3 linked regions of the Homo sapiens genome follow. The protein of the gene in region 2 purifies or fractionates together with the protein of the main gene of each other region. This does not show direct contact. Each region holds a gene or a part of one and is shown on either strand. Other genes may lie near its edges.

Region 1 (9,598 bases), on a different chromosome or scaffold from region 2:
TCTGCATTCGAGTTCATGGATGCTGTGTGCATGCAGCTGGTCGGGCGCCATCTCCACCTGGCCAGCCCGGTGCAAGGTACTGACCCCCCACACAGGGGGCAGCTGGTCCTGCAGCTCCTTCTGCACGTCTGGACACATGGGACGGCTCAGAGACCCCGGGTGGGCGGGGGGTGCCCGGGCGGGCGGGTGGGGGGTCCCTGGGCGGAGCATGGAGTGGCCGTTGGGCTCATGTGTAAGAAAGCTGCTCTTAACATATTTAGGACAAAGAACAGGCTGCCCTGGTCCTGTGTAAGGTTTGTAGTTACACAGATTTCCTGATCTTCTGCAGGAAGGACGGGAAGGAACTAAGTGGCTATTTTTGGTGAGCTGGGAGACTTTCTTTCCATTTCTTCTTTTCTTTGTTTTCCCATGTTGCTTTCTGTAAGCACGTTTTTCTTTTATGCTGGGAAAAAAGCCAATAATTTTTTGTTGTTGGGGGATGGAGTTTCGCACTGTGGCCCAGGCTGGAGTGCAATGTCACGATCTTGGCTCACTGCAGCCTCCACCTCCCGGATTCAAACCATTCTCCTGCCTCAGCAGCCTCCACCTCCCGGGTTCAAACGATTCTTCTGCCTCAGCAGCTTCCACCTCCCGGGTTCAAACAATTCTCCTGCCTCAGCCTCCTGAGTAGCTGGGATTACGGGCACCTGCCACCACACTCAGCTAATTTTTGTATTTTTAGTACAGACAGGGTTTTGCCGTGTTGTCCAGGCTGGTCTCGAACTCGTGACCTCAGGTGATCCACCCACCTCAGCCTCCCAAAGTGCTGGGATTACAGGTGTGAGCCACTGTGCCCGGCCAAAGACGACTTTTTAAACCTTCTGAAAGTCAGCTTAACCAGAGAGCTGTGTGCTCCGCAGGCTGCCTGGGTCCTTCTTGGCCACGAAAGATCAGTGGTTGCTATTACAGCTGTTCTGCCCGAGCAGCCCTGATTCTTGCCCTGGCAGCCGGAGCCTCTGCTCACTCTGCCTTCCTTGCTCACTTCTAGAGAGTCCGTTTTACGTCCTCATCGAGACTTCAGGCTCCAACGCAGGCCATGACGCTGAGAAGCTGGGCCACTTCCTGGAGCACGCGCTGGGCTCCGGCCTGGTGACCGATGGGACCATGGCCACCGACCAGAGGAAAGTCAAGGTGCCCTGTGTCCTGCTTGCAGGTCCCCGCTCTCTGTCCGTCCAGTCCAGCCTTGTCTTGGGATGCCTGGAACGGTCATTGGTGCAGCCTAGACAGTGTGGGATGTGGCTGAAATGTGACTGGGTTTCATGGCTTTGAGAGAGTAGCCTCTTTGGATGGAAAATGTATTCCTGGTGTCTAGGCCATTTTCATTAATATTTAAAAAGTACTTCCTCCCCACCATGACCCTCCCCAACCCCATGCTGTGGGATGAGCAAGGGGACTGCCCCATTGCTGGTCCCCTGCAGCCTGTGGTTAAGCGGCCAGTCAGCGGCAGCTCCGCATAGAGTCGTGTGGAAGGAGTGGAGGCAGGAGGAGCCCCTGGGGCTGTGGAGGCTTAGCCTGGACCTCGGGAGTCCTAGGATGGGCAGTTTTCCTTCCCTAGGAGGAAGGGGCGTTGACTGTGTGACCAGATGATTTGGCCTTTTGAGGCCAAAGGAAGGAGGGGCAAGGCCTGGGCAGGGGGAGCCCTCGGTCACCGTCACCGGGGCCTGGGCAGGGGGAGCCCTCGGTCACCGTCACCGGGGCCTGGGCAGGGGGAGCCCTCGGTCACCGTCACCGGGGCCTGGATAGTGGGAGCCATTGGTCACTGTTACCGGGACCTGGGTGGGAGGAGCCCTCAGTTACCTTCACCGGGGCCTGGGCAGTGGGAGGCGCCCTTGGTCACCGTCACCAGGGCCTGAGCAGTGGGCGCAGGACTTTACTCCCGCTTAGTTGATTTCAGGCTCGTGTTAGCCTGGGTGTTGCCCTTGCCATCTTCCCCCCTCACCTTTGCCGCCTGACTGTCATGATTCCAGTGCTTCTGGGCAAAACGGTGTCTGCTCCCAAGGGCTGGGGTGCGGTCGGCTGGGCTCACTTGTGTGTCCTGATGCCCAGCCCAGGGGCGTCCTCTGGGCGAATGGCAGCTGTGTGGTGCCATCTCTGTTGACTGAGGCATGATCAAGTGTGCGTCCTTCCTAGGTCTCTGCCTGCCATTCCTGCATTTTTCTAAGTGGACTGTGACAGTCAGCTCCCTTACATTCTGCCGCAGTAACAAGCAATCCCCAGGCCCCAGGGACCACACGAACAGAGGCTCACCCTCCCTCGCGTTCCGTGTGGGTGATCGCTGTGGCTGCATGTGCTCCTGTGGCTTCCAGTCCAGGGGCCCGGGCTGAGGCAGCTGCCCAGCCAGTCAGTCTGTTTTCCCAGCAGAAAGAGCAGGACAGCCGCCGGGGATTCTCTCAGCTTCTGCTTGAGATGGGGCGGGAACGTGAGCCCAACTGCCCTTGGTGGTGCGGGTGGGGACCCTCATCCCGCACTGGCTGCTTTGCTGGAGTGGCAGTCAGTCATGCAGCCCCCACACCACCCCCAGGAGGGCGACCCTGGCACCCCAGCCTCCACACATCAGCCCCCATGCCCCCACAAAGGAAGGCTGCCCCCAACACCCCCAACCTCTCTACCAGCCCCCATGCCACCCCCAGGGCGGGCCGTCCTCCATGCCCCCAGCCTCTGCACATCATCCCCCACGCCACCCCCAGGGCGGACTGTCCCCAACGCCCCCAGCCTCTGCACATCAGTCCCCAGCCCCTCCACAGCCTGGTCCAGTCCTAGACCTGTGCCTTGAACATTAATGCCCAGAGCCGGGTTCATGACCAGGACAGGGCCGAATGGGGCTGGTTCTGTGTTCACAAAGTCACCTCCAGACGCTTCCTGGGACGGGTTCAGGAGACGCCTTGTGTGTCTGTCACCTCGTTCTGGCTCATGCTCGACGGGTAGGTAATCTGGCCTTTGTTTTCTGCAGATAGCAAAACGACCCTTTCTTAGGTGTGCGGCTCGATGAGTTGACCCGGATATGCGGTTGTGTGCAGTTGCTCTGAGGCTTTTCTGTGCTGTTGTCCGGTGTTGGCGAGGCTCTGGGCAGGTCCTGAGGCTTTTCTCTGCTGTTGTCCGGTGTTGGCGAGGCTCTGGGCAGGTCTGGGCAGGTCCTGAGGCTTTTCTCTGCTGTTGTCCAGCATTGGCGAGGCTCTGGGCAGGTCCTGAGGCTTTTCTCTGCTGTTGTCCGGTGTTGGCGAGGCTCTGGGCAGGTCCTGAGCCATTCTGCTTTCCACTCTGTGGTCTTTCCCTTCTGGGAGCCCTGGGTTTTTGGACATGTTGAGACAATGGGGCTTGCGCAGGTCCAGCCGCTGCCGCGGGGGCCCTGTGTTCAACGGGGGACACTCAGCCCTGCCCAGGCCCCGCTGTAGCCTCAGCCCACCCGAGTGGAAGCCACACTGGTCGCACCAGATGCCCCGGGCTCCTCTGAGTAGTGACCACGGCGGGTCTCATTGGCACTGCCTATCCACCCGTCACGTGTCATTCAGTTAGCAAACCTGCTAGGGAGATGCCTCCTGTGCCCTGTGCCTGCCGGGCGACAGCAGTGACCAGGGCGGGAGAAGCCTTGCCCCATAAACTCACGCAGCAGAAGGAACAAGCTCAGCCCATGGCCCCTCAGAGCCAGGAAGCGCCGGGGAGGAGGGCAGGGCCAGGCAGGGTCATGGGGTGTGCCGGGGAGTGCCGGGAGGGCCGGAAAGATGACCCTGAGGGGTCATTTCAGCAAAGACGGGGTGTGGGGAGCAGAACGTCTGGTGCAGGAGCACCAAGACCCTGAGGGGCGCGTGCCTGCCATGTTCTAGAACCTTCCAGAGATGGTGGGTGTGGAGCTGAGTGACTGAGGCGTGAGCAGACAAGGGTAGAGCCCATCTTGTGGCCACGGGGACACATGGGGCGGCCGGTCTGATGAGGAGGTAAGAAGGCCTCACAGGCAGCCGATGCCCGCCAGACCATGGAGGCGAAAGCCGGCCTCGCAGCCGTGCCCGTGCGGCTGTGACGAAGGGACCGTAGGAGGGGCTCTTGCTCAGGGCAGGGCGTGACCCAAGGGTCTGATCTGACCGAACTAGCTCTAGAAGTTTGTAAAAGGGGCCGGGCACGGTGGCTCATGCTGTAATCCCAGAGCTTTGGGAGGCTGAAGCAGGAGGATCACTTGAGCCCAGGAGTTTGAGACGAGCCTGGGCAACATCGGGAGACTTCAAAAAAACAAAAAATTGATGGTGGGGAAATGCGGGAATTTTGGGCGCCGGCCGGATTCCCAGTGGTGGCGAGGAGGTGGTATTTTTTTAAGTGTCAGTGTGGCATTGTGGTTGCCTCAATAAAACAGAGTCTTTTTTTGTCTTTTTTTTTTGAGACAGGGTCTCGCTCTCACCCAGGCTGGAGTGCAGTGACACAGTTGCAGCTCACTGCAGCCTCGACCTCCTGGGCTCAAGCAATCCTCCCGCCTCAGCCTCCCGAGTAGCTGAGTCTACAGGTGCCCACCACCAAACCCAGCTGATTTTTATTGTTTTTAAGAGACGGGGTCTCCCTGTGTGGCTCAGGCTGGTCTGAAACTCCTGGGCTCAAGTGATCCTCCTGCCTCAGCCTCCCAAAGCTCTGGGAATACAGGCGTGAGCCACTGCGCCCGGCCAAGTGTTTCTCTTAGAATTTCCTGAAATGATAGGGTCTCTGGAGGGGCAGGTGCTGGGCTTGAGCCCTGGGTAGGACCCTGCAGGGGAGAGGTGGTCCTGCAGCCCACAGAGGATGGCTCTGTCCTGTTCCTCATGGTGCAGATCTCCACAATGGAAGTTCGAAGCAAGCAAAAGCCACGCAAACCACAGGCCGATCTGTCTGAGCCCTAGGATTTGGCCCGGTTCTGCTTCAGCCACCAGCACCGTCTGCTCCTCCTCAGAATCCTTCCTCCCCCGTGGCCCGCCCGCCGTGTCCCTCCTCCTCCACGGCCCGCCCACCGTGTCCTTCCCTCCCCCGTGGCCCACCCACCATGTCCTTCCCTCCCCTGTGGCCCACCCGCCATGTCCCTGCCTCCCACCCGACATGCCCCTTGAGCTGCCTGGGCCCTGCTGTTGTCCCCACTGCCTGTGTGACTCTGCGCCCCCTTCCCTACCCTGCCCCACCCTGGTTCAGGGAGCGTCCAGGCCCATTCTCATCCTCAGGGCCTTCCCTGGCCCTTGCCACTCTGTGCCGTGTCATGACCTGAAGCTGCAGGTGGGCGCCTCCCCCTTCCGTCATGGCTGTCCCCCTTCTGTGAGGTGTCCCAGCCGCCTGATTGCCGGAGTCCCAGGGTGCTCGGTGCTGTCGTGGAGCCTGGGACATTCACTGTCTGGGATTGATTCCAGGGTTGGAGCCACACCTGGTCTGGGGCATTCGCTGTCCTGGGTCAGAGCCCCTCCTGGTCTGGGACATTCGCTGTCTGGGGTTGGAGCCACACCTGGTCTGGGGCATTTGCTGTCCGGGGTCGGAGCCTCACCTGGTGAAGATACAGAACATGCTGCTGCCCTAACCCCGTGTGGTGTGCCCCCTGTCCCCGGGTGTCGTTCCCATAGCCAGCCCTTGTCTCATCTCGTCTCATCCTCTAGATGCTGTGGGCCCTGAGGGAAAGGATCACAGAGGCGCTGAGCCGGGATGGCTACGTGTACAAGTACGACCTCTCCCTCCCTGTGGAGCGGCTCTACGACATCGTGACTGACCTGCGCGCCCGCCTCGGCCCGCACGCCAAGCACGTGGTGGGCTATGGCCACCTTGGTGAGCGGCGCCCCGGGGCCGCGGCCCTGTGTGTGCTGGGTGGTGGGCCCCACGGTCACCGTCACCCTGCCAGGCTTCGAGGCAGGGCAGTTTGACCATGGTCTCTGGCTTAGCATATCTCCCGTAGACACTGGCAGGACCACGGTGTCTGACAGGGAAGGGAAAATCCTAATCGTTGTCATGACTCGTTTTGAGTATTTTGGAAAAGACTGCCATCGTGCACTTGTAATGGCAGAGCGCATGGCTCAGCTTGTCAGAACGTTCTGGGATCTTCAGTGGCATGCAGGGTTGGAGGGCATCAGCCTTAACCCCGGAGTCCGGGATGCGGGTCTCAGGGGCTCCTCTCACAGGGCCCGGCCCCGAGGCCTTTGCAGTGCTTAGCCCCCAGCTGCTCTACCCCTTCAGATGGGAGGATTTCAAAACCACGTTCAGATCATCTTTTTTCTGCAGAAAAATCATGCTTTAACGTGTAAGCTATTAATTCATAGGAAGAAAATGTTTCAATCCTATCAGTTCTTTTTTTTGAGACGCAGTTTCACTCTTGTCACCCAGGCTGGAGTGCAGTGGCGCAATCTCGGCTCACTGCAACCTCCATCTTCTGGGTTCAAGCAATTCTCCTGCCCCAGCCTCCCGAGTCTCTGGGATTACAGGCGTCCACCACCAGGCCTGGCTAATTTTTGTATTTTTAGTAGAGACAGGGTTTTGCCATGTTGGCCAGGCTGGTCTTGAACTCCTGACCTCTGGTGATCTGCCCACTTCGGCCTCTCAAAGTGCTGGGATTACAGGAGTGAGCCACCGTGCCCAGCTGTTTTCCTGTCAGTTCTTTGGAGCCTTGGAGCGAGGTGTCTAAAAGGCCAGCTTATAGGGCAGGGGTGGGGGCAGTGCTGGGGGTGTGGAGCATGGCTTTGGGGCCTGACAGATATTCACTCTGGCTTCTTCCCTGGCCTGGTGGCACTGGAGTCACTGACCTGAAGCCTCCATCCATCTGCCAGTAAATGGGATTCAGGTGCCACCTCTGTGGTTACAGGAGGGTCTAGGGTTGTGTACGTGACGACAATAACACGTATTACTTACGAAGGTCCCGTGCTGTCCCAGGCATTATTCTAAGCACTTGATGTGGAGAAACTTCTCTGCACAACAGCTTTTAGGACTGGTGGTGTTGCTTCCCTTTTACACACATGTAAACAGGTTCAGAGAATTTAAGTAACTTGCCCAAAGTTGCCCAGCCTGTGGAGGGGTACATCTGGAGGATTTGACATAGGATGGATGGTAATCTTCTGTGATAGGAAGGCAGGACTCCTGAATGGGAAGGGGGTAAGGGCATGATGAGTGTGTCATCATCCAGAGAAGAGGGGTACGGGAGCCCCAGTATTTCAGAATATGGGAAGGGGGTAAGGGCATGATGAGTGTGTCATCATCCAGAGAAGAGGGGTACGGGAGCCCCAATATTTCAGAATATGGGAAGGGGTTAAGGGCATGATGAGTGTGTCATCATCCAGAGAAGAGGGGTACGGGATCCCCAATATTTCAGAATATGACCTCAAGCCAGGAGGAGGCTTCCTCCTCTCCAGGTAACTTCAGTCTCTCTTGGCCACAGATAAAGCAGACCATCTTGGTGAGAAATGGAATGAGCCCTCTGTTACTTTGTAAAAGCAAGAATGGGCCAGGCGCAGTGGTTCATGCCTGTAATCCCAGCACTTTGGGAGGCTGAGGCGGGTGGATCACCTGAGGTCAGGAGTTCGACACCAGCCCGGCCAACATGATGAAACCTCGCCTCTACTAAAAATACAAAAAATTAACTGGGCATGGTGGCAGGCACCTGTAATCCCAGCTACTCGGGAGGCTGAAGCAGGAGAATCACTTGAACCCAGGAGGCGGAGGTTGCAGTGAGCAGAGGTTGCACCATTGCACTCCAGCCTGGGTGACAAGAGTGAAACTCCATCTCAAAAAAAAAAAAAAAAGCAAGAATGAATGTTGAATTTTTAAAATGTGTTTCCTGCATCTGTCATGGTGACCGGGTGCTTGTCTGCCTGTAATCAGTGTGGTAAGTTACACTGATTGATCCCTCTGGAGTCAGATGAGTCTGTGTTTCTGGGGTAGGCCCAAGGTGGCCATGATCCTTTCTGTATCTTGCTGGATGAGTTTGTTTATGTTTGGTGTGGGATTTTGACAGGGGTCTTGGTGGATGATTCTGTTCCACGCTGTTCCTTTCTTCTGTCCATGCTGGATTTTGGTATCAAAATCATAACATGAATATTATGCAGAACTTGCCAGTGGAGCTGTTTGGGCCTGGAGGTTTTTTTGAGGGAGTATTTTAAAATTATAGCTCAGCTTCTTCAATAGCTTTAGGACTTTCAAGCTTTCCTTTCTTCTAGATTGGTATTGCTAATTTTTTCCCATATTGGCATAAAGTTGTTCGAATATTCTTTTGTTGTCTTTTTATGTAGCATTTGTGGGATGCCCCCACACCCTTTTTTTTGGTGGGGACAGGGTCTCGCTGTCACCCAGGCTGGAGTGCAGTGGCTCACCACAGCCTCGACCTTCTGGGATCAAGCAGGCCCGCCACCTCACACACACCAGCAGGCCTGGCTAACTAAAAAAAAATTTTTTTGTAGGCCCGGTGCAGTGGTTCACGCCTATAATCTCAGTACTTCAGGAAGCCAAGGCTGGAAGGATCACTGGAGTCCAGTAGTTCTAGACCAGCCTGGGCAACACAGTGACATCTGATCTATACCGCCCCCCGCCCCACAATATATGTGTGTGTGTGTGTGTGTGTGTGTGTGTGTGTGTGTGTGTGTAGAGCCAGACTCATGTAGAGCCAGTTGTGTGGCCGGACCGGTCTTGAACTCCGGGGCCTCAAGCAAATGCTCCCTCCTTGGCCTCTCAAAGCCAGAGATTACAGGCGTGAGGTACTGTGCCTGGCATTATTTGCTGCTTGCATTATCATTCCTTCTTTGACCGATGAGTTATGCAGAAGTGTGTTTCTTAATTTCCAAACGTGGTGGTTTTCTAGTTATTTTAAAAATTATTGATTTCTTTTTTATTGCATTATACCCAGGAAACTTCGTCCTTATCAGATCAGATTTTTGAAACTTGATCAGTGGCAGCTTATGATCAGCCTTCGTAACTGTGGAGTGCTTGAAAAGAATGTGCTCTCTGCAGTTGCTGGAATCAGTGTTTGTACAGATCCATCAGATAGAAGTATACGTCGCGTGTTCATTCTACATCCTGCTGACCTGCCACTCCCTGAGGGAGGTGTTAGAAATCTGCTGACAACAGACTAATCTGTTCCTCCTGTAGCTTTGCCAGTTCTGGAGACGTGTTCTTAGGGGCATAGGACATGAGGTTCGTCTCTTTGTTTTGGGAAACTGAATCTCCTAACGCGATGGACTCGCTCTTTATCTCCAGCATTGCCCGCTGCCTTGGTGTCTGCTTTGTTTATTACACAGTGATGCTAACTTTCTTTTATTTAGTGTTTGCCTGATGTGTTGTTTTTCCTCCGGTTAGCTTCAGCTTTTCCATCCTTAGTGATTTAGATGTGTTTCTTGTGGACGCCCCCGGACAGGTTTCTTGCGTACTTGTTTGCCGTCTTGAATGAGAGCGTTTGGCTGCTGAGCACGTGCTGTGGCCCACTGTTTGGATTTGTCTACTTCACCCTGCTCTTTGTCTCTCACTTCTTGTCTATTTTTTCCTCTGTTTTTTGCTCTTCTGGTTTATGTTCTTTGTCATTTAGCTTTTTGCCGTTTACTAACTGTTGGTGGTCGCCCTGGCACCACAGTGGACATTTCTAGCCCTCTGGGTT
Region 2 (10,049 bases):
GGTTTTCAGTACAAAGCCACCCTGAAACTAGACTTTGCATTTGCCCGGAACTGGCAATTTTGATGCCTTGGGCAAGTTGCAGTATGTGGGCCCTTGGTCAACTTTGTGCTCTGGATTTGGCACAGAGAGGGGTGTTACTAACAATGTACACCATCTGCTAGCTTCCCGTTTTAACTAATTATTCTTGTTAACTAGGTGCTAAGCTCAGTTGTTTCTAGACAGTGGAAGGAATGCTGGGTTTGTCAACGTGTTAATCTAACAAAATTTACAGTCACATAATCTTTTAAAATCGGTATTAATACTTTCTTGCACCCTTTAAATTTTGGCATCCTGGCACAAAGCCAAGTCACCTGGGTTGGCTCTGTGTAAGTCTCACCAATGGACTTGTTACTAGGGAGGTGCAGAGTAAGTTAATAAGTGATGTGCACTGTGCTCAGTACACATGTGTTTGGGCTGGGAGGAGACAATGGATTGCTCTAGAATCACCTGGAGACATTTTCTACTCTGCTGTATACCCCATACTCCTCTCCTTCCAGGTCTGTCAGCACAGAGATGGGAGGAGGCTGGGTTTTGATTGAACAGAGACAGCAAACCATAAAAGATGAATGAGGCTGGGTGTGGTGGCTCACACCTATAATCCTAGCACTTTGGTAGGCCCAGTGGGGAGGACCACTTGAGGCCAGGAGTTCAAAACAGCCTGGGAAATACAGCCCCAACTCTACAAAAAATTTAAAAAATGAACTGGTGTGGTGGTGCATGCCTATAGTTTTAGCCACTTGGGAGGCTGAGGTGGGAGGATTGCTTGAGTTCAGGACTTCGAGGTTACAGTGAGCTATGATCATGTCACTGCACTGCAGCCTGGGCAACAGAATGAGGCACTGTCTCTGGAAAAAAATAAAAGAAAGTCTTCTAAGTCTTATTCTAAATTGTGTGATCACTACACTAAAGCGGTTAGGAGCTGTTTGTTCTGTGTTCTGATAGTTATACATTTTTAAGAAAAAATATAATCAAGCAGATAGGCAGCTACTCTGGTTTCCACTTACAACACCAGTGAGAAGCTTCGTGGTGTGCAGATGAGGAGGCCACTGGGTAGTATCCATTCTCAGGGCAGTGGCTTTTCTTATTGCAGGGTAACATGTGGCAACTGGCAGAAGACATTTCAAATTGCTGACAAGTATTCTATCATTCTCTTCTCTGACAATGGTCATACAAACTACCTGAGAGTCATTTTTGACTTCTCTATTTCCCACTTTTTGACATGGGGTTGGAAAATCTTGGTTCGTTTCCACTAAATGTCTCTTGGGCACATCTATTCCAGTCCCGCCGCCACTGCTCTAAACCTGGACGACAGCAACAGCTTCCTCACTGATGCCCTGGATTCGGTGTCTCCTCTGTATATCCTTCCTACCAGAGCCAGATTAGCTTTCCTAATAACCATCTTTCTCTTGCTCAAAACCTCACATGGCTTCTTATTTGCTGCAAGAATGTGTAAACATATCCTTTTAAGAGGCCATATCCTTTTAAGGTCCTTAACGTATCCTTTTAAGAAGCTATGGCCGGGCACAGTGGCTCACGCCTGTAATCCCAGCACTTTGAGAGGCCGAGGGGGTGGATCACCTGAGGTCAGGAGTTCAAGACCAGCCTGGCCAACATGGTGAAACCCCGTCTCTACTAAAAATACAAAAATTAGCTGGACGTGGTGGTGGATGCCTGTAATCCTAGCTACTCGGGAGGCTGAGGCATGAGAATTGCTTGAACCTGGAGGCGTAGGTTGCAGTGAGCTGAGATTGTGCCATATCACTTCAGCCTGGGCAACAAGAATGAAACTCTGTCTCAAAAAAAAAAAAAAAAGATATGGAGGCCCATGGCCTCTATCTTTCCAATGCAGCCCCTTCCCCAGCAGTACTCCTGAGCCTGTGCTCTCCACTGTGGACTGACAGTGCTCCTCTCTTTCCTTCAGTTCCTCCTTGGCTGTCTGCTCATTTTGCAGAGTTATCTGGAACCTCGTCACTATTCCATCTGTCCATTCCCATCCATTCCTTAAGGTTTAGCTCAAGTACCACTTCTGGGCCAGGCCTGTAGGCCATGTTAAGTGAACCTGGTGGGGGGCACAGGTTGTTTTTCTAGGAGGATTTTCACATTACATTGCTACTTACATGTCGTATGGTTAGTGCTAATTGATCCAGACTCCCAAACGGCTCCTTCCACCATCAGGATCAAGGCCCCAATCTTGGGCTTTGTCGACCAGTCTAAGCCAAGCTTTTTTGGACTCACATTTGTGACTTTCTTGGACTCATATTTGGCTCTTTCCAATGCACATTTGAGTGTCTGCCAGACTGTTCCTTAAAAATGGAATTACCCTATTCTGTCTACTATTGCTTAAGATCCTCCTCTTCTAAGAAGATTATGCAAATTATTTCTGCCAACCTTCCAATCTGTTAGCAGAATCCTGTACTTTCCATTTTTGGGTAGATTCTCCCTTCCACTCTGGGAAATAAAGTGTGTGCCCTGAGCCTCAAGGGAAGAGGAGCTTCCTTTGTGAATGCTTCATAGTTGCTTCAGCAGCTGCAAGGCTGTTGTCCACTACTAATTATGACATTGACTTATGTACTTTCTTTGAGACTGAAGTCCAGTACCTGGTAGTCCACAGGCAGCCAATAAAGGAAGGGAGCTTGGGAGGTCTGGGTCTTTCCTTACTGGCTGTGGGACCTTGGGAAGTTGCTCCAGCTATCTGAGCCAGGGTCTGCAGACTGAGAGAATAGTCCTTGCCTTGCTTGGGTTGTTGTCAGGTCTAGAGATAACCTGTGTAAGGCTCTGAACACAGGAAATGGCACATAGTAAGTGGCTGAAACATGGTGGGCTGCTTCCTGAGGTTCCCAGGGACTTGACTCTATAAGCTGAAGAAGAGGGGAATGTTTATTAGCTCATGGGTGGGAACATCTATTTTGTGATTGTATTTACCCTTCACATCTGTTCAATTAGATTGAAAATTACTGCAGAACCAGTACCAGCTGTTTCTTTGGGGTACTCAAGGGATGATGCAGGGTTGAAGCATTAGAATGTTTTAAAATTCTCTGACTGAGATGGGATGATTCTCTGACGTTAGTATATGGACATAATAGAAAGGCACACAGTAAAAATGTGCTGCTGTCTAGGAAAGCAGGGAAGGAGGCTCAGGCTGGCTTCCTTTTCCACCTCCTGGCTCTGTGCCCATTTCCCTGCAGCTCACCATGGCCACCAGCCGCTCCCGGTCCTCCGCCTTCCCCACATGGCACACAGTGCCCGTCACGCTCAGCCCCTCCCCCTGCAGCGTGGCCACCGCCTGGTCCACATTCTGCTGCTTCCGGCTGCTGACGACCACGTGGGCCCTGTCCTGGGCCAAACGCCGGGCGATGGCGAAGCCGATCCTGTGAGCAGAAAGAGACAAAGACTGCTAAGGCCTGTGCAGGGGAAGAGGTCGACAGCATGGGCTCTGAAGTTAAGACTGCCCGGGTTTGAATTCTGGCTCTTTCTCTATATAACTCCTACGTGTGCCTACTATGTGTAAAACAGGCTTAATGGCATGGCCATTTTTAGCACTGCTTTACTTATTTTTATTATGACCTGGATCACAGCCTTAGTTCCCAAGAACTGACATCACTTTCTACAGTTCCCACCACGGGTGACAGGCTTCATCTCCTGTTGGGACTGAGAGGTGAGAAATGAGCTGGGTGTGCAGCAGCAGCCACTTCCGTGATTTGAAGGTCTCACTCAGAACAGTCCTGCCGCCAGGTTTCTTTCTTACTAGTCTACATCATTCTCAAAATTCTTTCCATAATTATTTTTTGGGGTGCATGTGAAAAGATGGTCTCTGGTCAAAAACGTAAATATTGCCTTGGGAAGAAGAGTTACACATTCTGCAGTTGTCAGCCATTAGCATTTTATCTACATTTGTATTTTAGTTTTGTGAAGAGCTGGCATCTAGCAAAGTCCTGTAGAAATGAGAACCAGGACTGACAAGAGAGGTGGGTGAGAAACAGGCTGGGCAAGGTAGGCCCAGATGTACCGACCTAAAAAAAAGTCTCGACACATGGCTCTGGTGTCCCATCTAGGTAAGGGGGAGGGGTTCCGGGACACTTTCTGGAGCCCAAATAGAATGGTACATTTTCAAAAAGCTGGAGGCCTTGTTATAAGATTTTGAATCCAGATTCCCTTGCATTTCCAGTTTCTGGTCTTCCCAGAGGCTAGGTAAGGCTGGTTGACTGGGGCAGCCCAGAACACTGGGGGGACTAGATCGATGGGGCTGCACAGAGGTGGCACAGTTGTGCCAGAGGCAGCAGGGACAGAAGGGCTGGCAAGGGAGGGCCAGGGTATTCGGAGGGGCTTCAGGCGGACCACGTGGCTACTTTTTTTCCATGGCCAGACTTTGGCGGTATGTGAGGTCTGAGGACAGGGGCACTGGAGGCAAAGGACGAGACACCAGTGCATGTTTCCAGGCAGCCAGGGCCTCAGAAACTCCGGCACCAACACTCACCCGTCGGTGGAGGCCGTTACCAGGGCCACCTTATTTGTGAGCGGGTCCCGGCGGGTCATCCTGGAGCTGGCCATCCGCACCGACTTCCGTGCCCAGGCACAGAGGCCTAGCAGCCTGGCCATCTGCATGGATCAGACCAGCAAGTCTGGGTTCCACTCCTTCCAGCGGAGGTGACAGAGTAGGGCGAAGGGGCAGGACGAAGGGCGGGCCGCTTCCCTGCCTGCCCCCTTCCCGCCCTCGGCCAGCTGGGAGTCGTCTGTGGCGGTTGGCGCCTCCCGCCGCCCGCCAGTCGCCCCGCCCCGCAGCCAGCTACCTTCCGCCTGACTGGGGCTTGCCTTCCCGGGCTGGTGAGTGATCAAAGCGCTCTCCGTTCAAGTTGCCTGTAGGGCTCGCCCCTCCCCTGGCCCCCGCAGGAACCCGCAGACTTTGGCTGCTGCCCTTCTGCATCTGCTTGTCCACGTTTTCTTCTTGGGGAAGTGGGGGTTTTGAGTTGGTTGCTTTTGCTTCTTCAGAATTCCTTCTCCAAGAAAGTCTGGGTCTATGTATGTGACAGCCCACAGGAGGGCAAATGTTTTGAGACTGCCCATGGAGGTGAGGCCTGTGGTCCCCATGGAGTCCACCAGGTGAGGCTGGAGCAGCCTGGGAGAGAGACGTGATAGGCAGTAGCTGCGCCAGGCCTGGCACTGCCCTTCACTCTGCCCAAGGTCTCTTCCATCTTCACGGGCCCTTGGAGGGCAGACTACGGTCATTGGCAAAACAGGATCTCATATCCCTCGCCAAAGGGACTTCCTCCTTTACAGGGGCTAAGTGGTAGCGAGGAGGCTGGACAGTCCCTCAAGCAGTGGTGGAAATGCAAAGAACTCGGGGCACTCAAGTTCTCCCTAACCACTCTGTCCCCAGGTCTTAGCCTCCATCCTAGTTCAATAAATATTTGTTGAATGCAAAATCTCTTTATGAACTGTAAGCTACTAAGCACATAGTAGTTACTGCCACCATGTAGTGATTATTATTGGTGCCCTGGGCCAGACTCTTCATCTGTAAATTACTGAGGGTATGGATGATGAATAAAGTCCTTGCCAGCTATAAATTCTGTGTCCAAGACTTCAGTCTCCACTTCTGCCAAGTGGGCTGAAATGATCTCCCTCCTGGGTTTCCGGGAGAATGAATAAATATGGATGGCTTATGGTACAGTGTAGAAAGGCCGCAACAGACCCAAAGGTAAGTATCTGAATTAGTTTAACCCACTGGCCTCCAAAGCCAGACTGAGAAGCAGTGCTGGTTCATGGCAGCGTTTTCACTAGTTCAAAGCAAAATGAGAAAAGGAAACAATTACAGTGAGTTTCATAAAGCTAAGCTTATTTAACAGTCCTTTATTGTGGAGTATACCTTTCCTTCTTTTTGTGTGTGTGTGTGTTAGTGTTTTGTTTCAGAAAAGATGATGAAAGCAGATGGGTAGGTTTAGAGATGTGTTATTGGTGAAATCACCAGTTTGGCAGCCTTATGCCAGTCCCTACAATTAGAGGGGAAAGAATCCTGGTTTGTGAAATCCAGTTCTAGGCATGACTTTTGAATAGAATTCATGTTTGCTCAAGATTCATTTAGTATATGTGCAGGTCAGCTGAGCAGCTGAAAAAGGATTTGGACATTCAGCTGGGCGTGGTGGCTCACCCTGTAATCCCAGCACTTTGGGAGGCCGAGGCGGGCGGATCACGGGGTCAGGAGATCAAGTCCATCCTGGCTAACACGGTGAAACTCGTCCCTACTAAAAATACAAAAAATTAGCCGGGCGTGGTGGTACTTGCCTGTAGTCCCAGCTACTCGGGAGGCTGAGGCAGGGGAATGGCATGAACACGGGATGCGGAGCTTGCAGTGAGCCAAGATCACGCCACTGCACTCCAACCTGAGCGACAGATGGAGACTCTGTCTCAACAAAAAGAAAAAAAACAAGGATTTCAACATTCAAAAGGGGGTGTATGGCGAGCAAGTAATAGAACAGGCCTGCACTGGATTTCTAGTGTTTTCCTCAGCCAAGAAGTTACAGCTGCAGCACTCTGCTTTGCTACTCAGCACATCCCGATGAGACAGGAGAGCTGCAGTATAATTTTCCCCATGTCCAGGCAAAGCTGACTCTGACTGGTGCTCCTCAGTCTGAGCCTCATGAATTATTGACAGAGGCTGGAAGCGCCACACTCCTTGTGCTCTTGCACTGTTTGGAGCTCATGCACTGTGGGAACCCTTCCCAGGGCTCTCCATCTGTGTGGGGCTGGGGGGAGGGTACACAGGAGGACTGCTGCGGGGGTTCTCAGGGCTTGGTTCAAAGGGACAAGCCTCCAGGGGGGTATTTGATCTCTCTTCCTCTTCTCTTCAGAGGTAGACGGGCCCACTGAGGGGCTGAGGGTTCCAGGAAAGTGAGGAAGACCACACTTCAAAGAGCAAAGGATTCTGGGAAAAGAGAATTGTGGCTTGGGAGCTTGGTGAACAACACATGGCCCTTCCTTGTGTGGGCAGGGTTGCTATTTGGCCTCCAGCACTATTTCTTTTTCTTTCTTTCTTTCTTTTTTTTTTTTTATTATACTTTAAGTTCTAGGGTGCACGTGTACAACGTGCAGGTTTTTTACATATGTACACATGTGCCATGTTGGTGTGCTGCACCCGTTAACTCATCATTTACATTCGGTATTCCTCCTAATGCTATCCCTTCCCCATGCCTGCACCCCACGACAGGCCCCAGTGTGTGATGTTCCCCACCCTGTGTCCAAGTGTTCTCATTGTTCAATTCCCACCTATGAGTGAGAACATGCAGTGTTCTCACAGGGGGCCTGTGAGCAGAAAAGGATAGAAGGAAGTCAAGAAGTATGGGAATCTCTAGCGCTACTCCTCATCAAGCTGGCTTATTGGAGATAAGAACAGGAAATCTTGGGGTGGGCATGGTGGCTCATGCCTGTAATCCCAGCACTTTAGGAGGCTGAGGTGGGCAGATCACTTGAGGTCAGGAGTTTGAGACCAGCTGGCTGAGATGATGAAACCTCGTCTCTACTGAAAATAAAAAAATGAGCCGGGTGTGGTCTGGAGTTTGAGACAAGCCTGGCTAACATGGTGAAATCCTGTCTTTACTAAAAATACAAAAATTAGCTGGGCATGGTCAAGAGTTCAAGACCAGCCTGACCAACATGGTGAAACCCTGTCTCTACTAAAAATACATGCCTGGTGGCATGTGCCTGTAATCCCAGCTACTCAGGAGGCTGAGGCAGGAGAATTGCTTGAACCTGGGAGGCAGAGGTTGCAGTGAGCTGAGATCATGCCACTGCACTCCAGCCTGGGCAACAGAAGGAGCGACTCCATCTCAAAAAAATAAAAAAAGAAGAGGAACAAGAAACCTTTCAGGGAAATACATACATATGTGGGAGTATCTCTCTGAAATGGGAACTGTAATAGGCAATGGGATTGTTCTTGTATGGAGGTGGTAACATCTGCCTATCTTGAGGGACAAATGCCTCCATGATTGAGGGCTCTACTCTCATCCTTTTCAAGGGCTGCCTGCGGTCCAGAAGAGAATTCATCTGGGATGGATTTTAAGTCTTGCATTTTGCAATAGCTGTCCCAGATTCACTGTTGAGTCATGCATCACTGACACAAGTCAGGATTAGGCTATGTGGAAGGGCTGGTGTGGGATTAGGACAACTGCCAAGCAGAGAAATAATAGTAAGAGTGTTAACAGCATTTATTGAGCACTTCCTTAGTAAGTGCTGGCAAGTGTTAAGTGCTTTTTAGAAATTTTATTGAATATTTTTAATCTGGTGAAATGGGTGTTTTAATGTAGGGAGCCAAAGGCCTGAGGGTCGTGACCAACTCAGCATTCCACTGAAGGCTATATGATCAAACAGCCAACTGTTTATCATGATTGCAAAATGTGGGCAAACTCGCTTCTGCACCTGCCACCAGGAGGTTTGCTGAGGGCAATTACTCCCTGGTGCTGTGCTCCTTGAGGTTATCTACTGGAACCTCTGGAGACTACTGTTCAAAGAATGCAGTCATACAAGCCTACACTAAGTCAAGCAGCTTACTGACAACCACCCCTTTCTCCCTATCTCCTTTACTCAGTAAATACGAAGGGGTATAGAAGCTCAGGGCCCTTGTTCCCTAGAAGAAATGAGCCCCCTGACCCCTTCTTCCATATGTACTCATTTGTCTTTATTACCATGTTAATCTTCTTTTGTTCAGTCCACCAAGGACTGTGGCATTTTAAATTCTTTTTTTTTTTTTTTTTTTTGAGATGGCATCTTGCTCTGTCATCAGGCTGGAGTGCAGTGGCACAATCTTGGCTCACTGCAACCTCTGCCTCCCGGGTTCAAGCGATTCTCCTGCCTCAGCCTCCCGAGTAGCTGGGACTACAGTACCTGGTGAGCTAGCACAACACCTCGCTCAGCTAATTTTTGTATTTTTAGTAGAGATGGGGTTTCACCATGTTGGCCAGGATGGTTTCCATCTCTTGACCTAGTGATCTTCCTGCCTTGGCCTCCAAAAGTGCTGGGATTACAGGCATGAGCCACTGCGCCCGGTCGGGTGTTTTAAATTCTATATGTGAAAGTCGAGTGAGTGATGACAACCTCAACCACTGTCTGTGTTGTATAGCTACACTTCATTTTGATGACATTGTTGGGGGATTGATACTTTTCATAGAAATCAATTTTCTCTGAATTGGAATTTTAACTTTCAGGATCAGTGTGTTTTTCAAATCAACACATCTGTTCATTAAATTATAAAAATAAAACATGCTTATTATTTTAAAAAGGGAAAGAAAGTTATGTGAAAAGTAAAAGGTAACTCTTCCCTATGGTTCTTTTACCTTCTTCCCATACAGCTCTTGGCTTTGTGTATCTTTCCAGAAGTTTCCTATACATTTACATGCATTTTTCTTTTAAAAATTGTTTCCACAAATGAGATTACACTGCACATACTGCCCTTCAAATTGCATTTCTTTTCTTTCTTCTATGCTCCAACTCTTTTTAATTTCTTTTTTTTACATTTTTTCTTTTTTTAAATTATTATACTTTAAGTTCTGAGATACATGTGCAGAACTTGCAGGTTTGTTATATAGGTATAAACGTGCCATGGTGGTTTACCGCACCCATCAACACGTCATCTATATTAAGTATTTCTCCTAATGCTATCCCTTCCCCAGCCCCCTATAAACCCAACAGGCCCTGGTGTGTGATGTTCCCCTCCCTGTGTCCATGTGTTCTCATTGTTCCACTCCCACTTATGAGTGAGAACATGTGGTGTTTGGTTTTCTGTTTTTGTGTTAGTTTGCTGAGAATGATGGTTTCCAGCTTCATCCATGTCCCTGCAAAGGACATGAACTCATCTTTTTTTATGGCTGCATAGTATTCCATGGTGTATATGTGCCCCATTTTCTTTATGCAGTCTATCATTGATGGGCATTTGGGTTGGTTCCAAGTCTTTGCTACTGTGAACAGTGCTGCAATAAGCATATGTGTGCATGTGTCTTTATAGTAGAATGATTTATAATCCTTTG
Region 3 (9,598 bases), on a different chromosome or scaffold from region 2:
GGAGCTTGCAGTGAGCCAAGATTGCGCCACTGCACTCCAGCCTGGGCGAAAGTGCAAGACTTGGCCGGGCGCGGTGGCTCACGCGTGTAATCCCAACACTTTGGGAGGCCGAGGCAGGCGGATCACGAGGTCAAGACCATTCTAGCCAACATGGGGAAACCCCGTCTCTACTAAAAATACAAAAATTAGCTGGGCGTGGTGGCGGGCACCTGTAGTCCCAGCTACGCGGGGGGCTGAGGCAGAAGAATCGCTTGAATCCGGGAGGCGGAGCTTGCAGTGAGCCGAGATTGTGCCACCGCACTCCAGCCTGGGCGACAGAGCGAGACTCTGTCTCAAAAACAAAAAACAAAACAAAAAAACTGAGCTGGACATTTAAAAATGATTAAAATGAGCCTGGGAAACATAGTGAGACGTAGTGGGTGACAGAGCAAGAAAATATGGCTACAAATACGTATATGGTAGCCAGGCGCTGTGACTCACACCTGTAATCCCAGCACTTTAGGAGGCAGACGGAGATGGGCAGATCCCTTGAGCTCAGGAGTTTGGGACCAGCCTGGCCAACATGGCGAAATCCTGTCTCTACAAAAACTACAAAAATTACCCAGGTATGGTAGCACATGCCTGTGGTCCCAGCTACTCGGGTGGCTGAGGCAGGAGGATCACTTGAGGTAGAGGCTCAGTGACCGAGACTGCACCACCACATGCGCCCCAGAAGACAGAGTAACACCCTGTCTCAATTTAAAAAACAAAACAAAACCTGCCATCTTAACCATATACATATACACATATCATTAAGATGGCAGTTTTTTTGTTTTTTTTTTGTTTTTGGACAGAGTTTCGCTCTTGTCACCCAGGTTGGAGTGCAATGTCACGATCTTGGATCACTGCAACCTCCGCCTCCCAGGTTCAAGTGATTCTCCTGCCTCAGTTTCCCAAGTAGCTGGGACTACAGGCGTGGGCTACCACGCCCAGCTATTTTTCGTATTTGTAGTAGAGACGGGGTTTCACCATGTTGGCCAGGCTGGTCTCCAACTCCTGACCTCAGGTGATCCACCCAGCTTGGCCTCCCAAAGTGGTGGGAATACAGGTGTGAGCCACCATGCCCGGCTAAGATGGCAGATTTTTTTTTTTTTTTTGAGACGGAGTCTTGCTCTGTTGCCCAGGCTGGAGTGTAGTGGCGCAATCTCAGCTCACTGCAAGCTCCGCCTCCCGGGTTCATGCCATTCTCCTGCCTCAGCCTCCCAAGTAGCTGAGACTACAGGCGCCCACCATGACGCCTGGCTAATTTTTTGTATTTTTAGTAGAGACGGGGTTTCACCTTGTTAGCCAGGATGGTCTCGATCTCCTGACCTCGTGATCCATCCGCCTCAGCCTCCCAAAGTTCTGGGATTACAGGCGTGAGTCACCGCGCCCGGCCTGATGGCAGATTTTTTTAACGGTAAATTATATATTATGTGTATTTTAACACAGTTTTTTTTTTTTTGAGAGACAAGAGTCTTGATCTGTTGTCCAGGCTGGATTGCAGTGGTGCAATAAGCTCACTACAGCCTCAACTTCCTGGGTTCAAGCAATCTTCCTGCCTCAATCTCCTGAGTGGTTGAGACTACAGGCACACCCCACCTACCCTGCATCTGGCTAATTTTTTTTTCTTTTGAGACGGAGTCTTGCTCCGTGGCCCAGGCTGGAGTGCAGTGGCACGATCTTGGCTCACTGTAAGCTCCGCCTCCCGGGTTCAAGCCATTCTCCTGCCTCAGCATCCCAAGTAGCTGGGACTACAGGCGCCCGCCACCACACTCGGCTAATTTTTTGTATTTTTGGTAAAGATGGGGTTTCCCTGTGTTAGCTAGAATGGTCTCGATCCCCTGACCTCGTGATCCGCCCGCCTCGGCCTCCCAAAGTGCTGGGATTACAGGTGTGAGCCACCACGCCCAGCCAACATCTGGCTAATTTTTTAATCTTTAATAGAGATCAGATCTTGCTATGTTGCCCAGGCTGACAACTTTTTTGAATTGGAAAATTTTCTTAATTAAAAAATTTTATCTGAGAAGGGACTTGCATCTAGAATATATAAAGAGCTCTCATCACTCAACAACAAAAAGACAATTACACCAATTGGAAAATACAGGAAAGACCTGACTAGACAGCTCTCTAAAAATACACAGTGGTCAATAAGCACATGAGAAGATGCTCAGTATCATCTTCTCTCATTAGGGAAATGTAGATCAAAGCCACAGTGAGATACCACTGCACATCTACTAGCATGGCTAGAATTCAAAAGATGGATAATAACAAGTGCTGACAAGGATATGGGGAAATTGAATCCTTTTTACACTGCTGGTGGGAATGTGAAATGGTGCAGCCACTTTGGAAACAGTCTGGTAATTCCTCAAGAGAATAACCACAAAATTACCATATGACCCAAAAATTATATTCCTAGGCGAGCTGTTTTTACTCATGCTTTTAATAACAAACATGGGTGTCTCTTTCAACCCCACTTCTCCAACTCTCCGACACTAGGTGGGTGTCCTACAATTCAAGTAAAGTCTGGCACTACCTTCTGCGGTATAGGAAGGTAAGGTTGAAAGCGCTAACCCGCTAATCCTCCCTTGGCCTTTCTGGAGACCAGCTCCCATCCTGAAGCTATATCTAGGGCCCCCAGCCACCAGTTCTCTCATTAGCATACTAGACACTCTTAGGACTACAAAGGTCCCAAGGGCTTGGGGAGCTCCATGTCAGGAGAACAAAAAATCCTCCTACCACCCCTTTCAAAATTGATGGAGGTCATGATCCCACAGCTCTGTGAACATAAAACTGAAATCTACTAGCTTGTACACATTAGTGAATGAATTGTATGGCATGTGAACTATAACCCAATAAAGCTGGCACAAAGGGGGAGGTATGTATGCCCACTCAACAGAGTTTCTGTAAAGTTTAGGAGAAATAAAGTATGCAAAAGCCATCTGTAAGCAGCTCAACACTGCACTGTTAGGATCAGCCAATCGTGCAGGAACAGCTCCCTCTGGCCCTGCACCAACCTTCTGGTCTAAAATCACAGCTCAACATCCAGCCTAGGGACAAAGCAGGGCACGGATGCCAGCTGCCAGCTGTGAGCCAGCACAGCTGCTGGCTTGCAGGAGCCTTGATCTGCAGAGGCCCAGATTCCCACAGCCCAGGGTTGCCAGGTCACCTCCTCCAACAAAGCCCGGGTGTTCCGCTCGTCCCTAGGGGAAGAACATGCCAGGTCTCCACTGAGGGTGGCCACTTAAGTGGGCACTTTCAATCCAGCAAAACACACAGCTCATCCAACACCCGACCCTACTACCCTCCCCAAAACTCCTCCAAGTTATGCGGCCCAAGGCCCTGGCTGCCCAGTCGGCGTCGCAAGTGAGACACCATGGGCACAAAATATTCCCAGTCATCCTACCTTCCAGTAATGCAGGCTCCACAGGGTGGGAGATCAGCCCTGGGCCCAACCACCTGGACGGGAGCGCAGCACCCTCGCCGGGGCCCCACACATCCCTGGCCAGCCACCAGCCTCCTGGAAGATGCCTGCCTCCCAAACTCACAGAGCCGGAGAGCCCTGGCAAGCAGCTTCATCCTGCGGTAAGTGGGCAAACTGTTTACCCAGTGACAAGTATGATGCCCAGCAGAGCCCAAGCCTGTGTCTGCCTGGCCGGCTCAGCAGTGAGCCGGTGTGATCCCTCCCTGATAGAAAGCACCAGGCTCCTGCTCCTCCTAGGACCGCCCCTCCCCCACCAGCCCCCGGCAAGCCGCCTCCTCGGCTTCCGGAACTGGATCACAGGATGTTCTCTACAAAAGACCAGTGATGCAAGGAATCCATGACTCGGCCTGAACTCACAGACAGGGAAACAGGACAGGGCCACCACCCCTCTGCGGGAGAGGATGAACTGGGTGGGGCCACAAGCAACACTCATAAGGGTTCCCACCTCCAGGACCTTAAACCTCGCACCACTCAGGCTGGCCCTCAGGCAAGTAGAAGAATGAGTTCCACCTGGGCGGAGTTCCACCTGGGCAGAGAGGTCTTGGCTCACAGGCACCGGGAGAGCTGGAAGGCTGCGGGGAAGCCGAGGAAGGCCAACACACCGCACAACACGGCAGGTGCCTGGCCCTCCTCTGACAGTGGCCCTCAAGCTCCAGGAGGGCCGAGGAAAATGCAGATTCCTGGGCCTACCCCTCCCTGACCTTCCCCGCCCCTGGAGTTAGAGGCAGTAGCTCTGGGGTGGAGGCTCAGGAGCCTGGTTTTCTTTTTATTCTTCATTGTGGTAAACATCAAATGCTTACAAGAGTAGAGGGAGGAGGGAGTGAACCCCTATGTCCCCATCAAGCAGCCCCAAAACAGTCAGCTCAGGGCACCTCTGGTCTCTGCTCCCACCTGCTCCCCATGCCAGGTTATTCTGCAGCAAATCCCGGATTTCCCAGTACGACATCGTAAATATGTCTGCATTTCCTCTCAAAGATAAAAGCTCCTTGTGAAAAACCTAAAGGAGGGGTATGGTGACTCATGCCCACAATTCCAGCACTTTGGGAGGCCGAGGTGGGAAGATCACTTGAGCCCAGGAGTTCAAGACCTGCCTCGGCAACAAAGTGAGATCATGTCTCTACAAAAAATCTTTTTAACATTAGCCAGGCACAGAGGCGTGCACTCGTAGTCCCAGCTACTCGAGAGGCTGAGGTGGGAGAATCCCTTGAGCCCAGAAGGTTGGGGCTGCAGAGAACCATGATTGCACCACTGCACCACTTAGTTGCCTGGCCAACTAAGCGAGACCCTGTCTCAAATAAAAATAAAAACCACAAAACAAAGATCTCATCTAAAATATCATCCAAATTCCTAATATCATTAAATAGCAAGTGACTTCACGTTTCTGTCCTAAATGAATTGAAATCTGCATTTGTGAACTTCATTCACAAGATCCCAAGTCTCTGTGGCCTGGTGAAGAGAAACTGCAGTGTGCAGGGAACAGGGTAATACAGGGCTACGGGGACACAGGAGCGAGGCCCAGCACTGAGCTCGATCCGGTTCCATCGACACGAAATTCTAGAAGAGGCACAGCGAGTGAGTGAAAGCAGATCTTTTTGCCAGGGGCCAACAGTAGGGGAATTTTGGGAGTTTGGAAATATTCGACATCACAACTGGGCCCGCCACTACTCAGTGTGCACACTCATCAAAACTCAGCAAACTGTACGTTTCAAATATTCTTGTGTATGCATTCTAAATCTATCTCAATAAAGCTGGTTTAAAAAAGCAAACTACAAAACAATTATCCTACCTTAAAAAAAAAAGCAGTGATTCCTTAAAATCATTATCAAGGGACTATTCAAGTTTCCCCATTATCTCCTCAATCTTCATCTTGTTGACTCTCTGCTGAAGTACTGTTCACATGCAGAAAACCCATATTTGTAACAGACTTCCCCAGTTATTCCCATGCAGGGGTCCAAGGATGGGGAGGCACATCCTTGATCCCCCTCCCCAGGAGGGCTCTGAGAGTGAGAGGCCAAGGGGTGGGATGGCAAGACAGCCTATGGGGTCACCCCCTGGTGCAGGCTACACAGGCCAGGTGGGTCACACAGGAGAAAGCCACTTCTGGTCTGACCAGAACTGGGGAGCCAGCTAGCTGCAGGTGCCAATTCCAGGGCAATGCCAGGCTAAGTGGCCCACTTACAGCGTGAGGTTGGACAGTGGGTAGACAAAGGCCTCCCCACGCACAGGCTCTCTGGGTTACAAAGACTGCATCTTCACCCAGGGTCCACACATCCCAGCAGCAAGAGAGCCAGCACTGTAAATCATTTTGCGGAATGCTCCAGAATACAAGCTCTGAGTGTGGCTTCTGTAAATCAGGTTCTTTGTTTTTTTTTTTTTCTTTTTTTTTGAGACGGAGTTTTGCTCTTGTTGCTCAGGCTGGAGTGCAATGGCACAATCTCGGCTCACTGCAACCTCCGCCTCCCAGGTTCAAGCGATTCTCCTGCCTCAGCTTCCCAAGTAACTGGGATTACAGGCACCCGCCACTACGCCCAGCTAACTTTTTTTTCTTTTTTTTTGAGACCAAGTCTCACTCTGTCGCCCAGGCTGGAGTGCAGTGGCGGGATCTCAGCTCACTGCAAGCTCCGCCTCCCGGGTTCATGCCACTCTCCTGCCTGCAGCCTCCCCAGCAGCTGGGACTACAGGCGCACACCGCCACGCCCGCCTAATTTTTTGTATTTTTAGTAGAGATGGGGTTTCACTGTGTTAGCCAGAATGGTCTCCATCTCCTGACCTCGTGATCCGCCCACCTGGGCCTCCCAAAGTGCTGGGATTACAGGCGTGAGCCACAGCGCCTGGCCAGGTTCTTTCTTTTCATTAATTCCATTATAAAACCAAAGACAGAGCCCGGCCTGGTGCAGTGGCTCACACCTGTAATTCCAGCACTTTGGGAGGCCGAGGCGGGCAGATCACTTAAGGTCAGGAGTTCGAGACCAGCCTGGCAAACACAGTGAAACCCCGTCTCTACTAAAAATACAAAAATTAGCCGAGTGTGGTGGTGGGTGCCTGTAGTCCCAGCTACTCGGGAAGCTGAGGAGAGGAGAATTGCTTGAACTGGGGAGGCAGAGGCTGCAGTGAGCCAAGATCCTGTCACTGCACTCCAGCCTGGGTGACAGAGTGAGACTCTCTTAAAAAAAAAAAAAAAAAAAGGCCGGGTGCGGTGGCTCACGCCCGTAATCCCAGCACTTTGGGAGGCCAAGGTGGGAGGACCACAGGGTCAGGAGATCGAGACCATCCTGGCTAACACAGTGAAACCCCATCTCTAATAAAAATACAAAAAAAAATTAGCCGGGTGTGGTGGCGGATGCCTGTAGTCCCAGCTACTCAGGAGGCTGAGGCAGGAGAATGGCGTGAACCCGGGAGGCGGAGCTTGCAGTGAGCCGAGATCGCGCCACTGCACTCCAGCCTGGGCAACAGAGTGAGACTCCGTCTCAAGAAAAAAAAAAAAAAAAGACAAAGGTAGAGCCCCTCTTTGTCTTTTCCCTTGGGGGAAATAATTCTAACCCCATAACATACTGAAACTCATAGCCACTCAGCTGCTGTTTATTGACCTGTCAACTAGACCTCAGACACTATTCTAGGCATTCATGGTACCACATGGTACAACACAATTCCTGATCTCAGGAAACTTCCTGGTAGATCTGCATCTAAGAGCATGGCAAGCAAAGAAAACACAAAAAAACCTTGTAGATTTCACACATCTACCTATAAATAAAGCATGCCAAGTTATCTGCCTGCTGGGTGGTGTCCATGCCAAGGTCCCCCTCCATCAGCATGGTTATTCCAGAGCTGGCTACAGTCCCCAGAAAGCCTTGGAGCTTCCTTTAGGAACACCCTGCCCCCCACAGACCTACTAGTAAATTGATGTTTAAATTTCTCTACATATTGCACTCCCCAAAAGATAGCCACCAGCCACAGGTGGCTACCCACCTGAATTTAAATTGATGCAATTAAAAATTCTGTTCCCTTCGTGACCAGCCTGACCAACATGGTGAAACTCCATCTCTACTAAAAAAATACAAAAAAATTAGCTGGGCGTGGTGGCGGGCGTGTGTAATCCCAACTACTCAGGAGGCTGAGGCAGGAGAATCAGTAGAACCTCGAAGGCAGAGGTTGCAGTGAGCCGAGATGGCATCTAGCCTGGGGGACAGGGCAAGACTCCCTCTCAAAAAAAAAAAAAAAAGAAAGAAAAAAAAGCCCCTATCCCTTCAACAATGTCTGAACTGAGAACATGTGACCATTGTGTCTAAGATGGTGGGAATTTGGACGTTCTCACCCCTGCTAGACTGTGACCCCTTAAGGCAGGGGCCACATTTTCCACACGTTTCCCTCCTGGTGCTATGCTTCTTGGCAGTGTCCAGTAAAGCATTGTTAAATTCATGGGCTTGGCTGTGCTAGGCCAGGAGGCTCCTCTTTCAACTTGGGGTGTCAGCTCAGATGTCCTTAAAGGGCTCCCCATCCTAGTACAGTCACTCTCCAGTGTCCTGCGGTTTCTCTGAGTCAAGCCGATGGAACCACAGCCTTCTCTTCACAGGCCTACCCCTACCACCACTCCCGCCTACTCCTTTGGCAGTCACGCTCTGCACCTGAGGCTCACCTGCTCACTCATGAGCAGGGGCAGCCAAGCATCCTCCTCACCAGTCGTCTGGCCAAGGCAGCCACTTAGAAACAATATGCAATTGGCCAGGCACGGTGGCTCATGCCTGTAATTCTCAGCACTTTGGGAGGCCGAGGCGGGCAGATCATCTAAGGTCAGGAGTTCGAGACTAGCCTGGCCAACATGGTGAAACCCCATCTCTACTAAAAATACAAAAATTAGCTGGGCACGGTGGTGCACGCCTGTAGTCCCAGCTACTCGGGAGGCTGAGACAGGAGAATCACTTGAACAAAGGAGGCAGAGGTTGCAGTTAGCCGAGAGTGTGTCACCGCACTCCAGCCTGGGTGACAGAGTGAGACTCCATCTCCAAAAAATAAAGAAACAATATGCAATTGTGAACCTGAGATAGCAGACTTGGTTTACAGTGGGTAAGAAAAAGCACACACACGGGCCAGGCGCAGTGGCTCACGCCTGTAATCCCAGCACTTTGGGAGGCCGAGGCGGGCAGATCACCTGAGGTCAGGAGTTCAAGACCAGCCTGGCCAACATGGTGAAACCCCGTCTCTACTAAAAATACAAAAATTAGCCAGACATGATGGCGGGTACCTATAATCCCAGCAACTCAGGAGGCTGAGGTGGAAGAATCGCTTGAACCCAGGAGGCAGAGGTTGCAGTGAGCTGAGATCGTGCCATTGCATTCCAGTCTGGGTGACAGAGCGAGACTGTCTCAAAAACAAACAAACAAACAAACAAAAAGCACACACTTACTGTATGGAAGTGTCTAAAGCTATACAAAAATCTAGTAACTAGGCTAGGAGCAGTGGCTCACGCCTGTAATCCCAGCACTTTGAGAGGCTGAGGCGGGAGGATCACCTGAGGTCAGGAGTTCAAGACCAGCCTGGCCAACATGATGAAACCCCATCTCTACTAAAAATACAAAAATTAGCTGGGCGTGGTGGCGCACGCCTGTAGTCCCAGCTACTCAGGAGGCTGAGGCACAAGAACTTTTTCCAGCTGGGTGCGGTGGTTCACACCTGTAATCCCAGCACTTTGGGAGGCCGAGGAGGGCAGATCACAGATCACCTGAGGTCAGGAGTTCGAGACCAGCCTGGCCAACATGGAGAAACCCCATCTCTACTAAAAACACAAAAATTAGCCAGGCGTGGTGGCGCACTCTTGTAGTCCCAGCTACTCGGGAGGCTGAGGCCCAAGAATCACTTGAGCCCAGGAGGCAGGGGTTGCAGTGAGCTGAGATCGGGCCACTGCACTCCAGCCCGGGTGACAGAGTGAGACTCTGTCTCAAAAAACAAAAAATCTAGTAACTGTTAGAAGCTGGGTGAAAAAAGACAACATGTATAAATTGGCTATTCACCACCCTGAAGAAGTAAATAAAAGGCCAGCCTTCCACGGGAAGATTTAAATCAAGGTTTCCTTTATTCAGGAGAGGGGTGGGAAGAATACTG

The links.
Region 1: the proteins of DHRS4L2 (region 2) and D2HGDH purify together in Homo sapiens (affinity purification with mass spectrometry; 3 studies listed by BioGRID and IntAct, with this or other methods). This does not show direct contact.
Region 3: the proteins of DHRS4L2 (region 2) and ACOT7 purify together in Homo sapiens (affinity purification with mass spectrometry; 3 studies listed by BioGRID and IntAct, with this or other methods). This does not show direct contact.

Annotation. Positions count from the first base shown.
Region 1 is NC_000002.12:241,750,219-241,759,816, forward strand, and holds part of D2HGDH (D-2-hydroxyglutarate dehydrogenase, mitochondrial isoform 1 precursor), read left to right. Parts: coding exon 1-76; intron 77-328; coding exon of another isoform or gene 329-361; intron 362-1,027; coding exon 1,028-1,170; intron 1,171-3,860; coding exon of another isoform or gene 3,861-3,899; exon of another isoform or gene 3,900-3,971; intron 3,972-4,412; coding exon of another isoform or gene 4,413-4,445; exon of another isoform or gene 4,446-4,528; intron 4,529-4,826; exon of another isoform or gene 4,827-4,918; intron 4,919-5,630; coding exon 5,631-5,796; intron 5,797-9,598.
Region 2 is NC_000014.9:23,983,540-23,993,588, reverse strand, and holds the start of DHRS4L2 (dehydrogenase/reductase SDR family member 4-like 2 isoform 1 precursor), read right to left. Parts: upstream 4,661-10,049; 5' UTR 4,642-4,660; coding exon 4,514-4,641; intron 3,408-4,513; coding exon 3,230-3,407; intron 1-3,229.
Region 3 is NC_000001.11:6,382,070-6,391,667, forward strand, and holds part of ACOT7 (cytosolic acyl coenzyme A thioester hydrolase), read right to left. Parts: intron 3,700-9,598; exon of another isoform or gene 3,598-3,699; coding exon of another isoform or gene 3,425-3,597; intron 1-3,424. UniProt on the Homo sapiens protein: Catalyzes the hydrolysis of acyl-CoAs into free fatty acids and coenzyme A (CoASH), regulating their respective intracellular levels.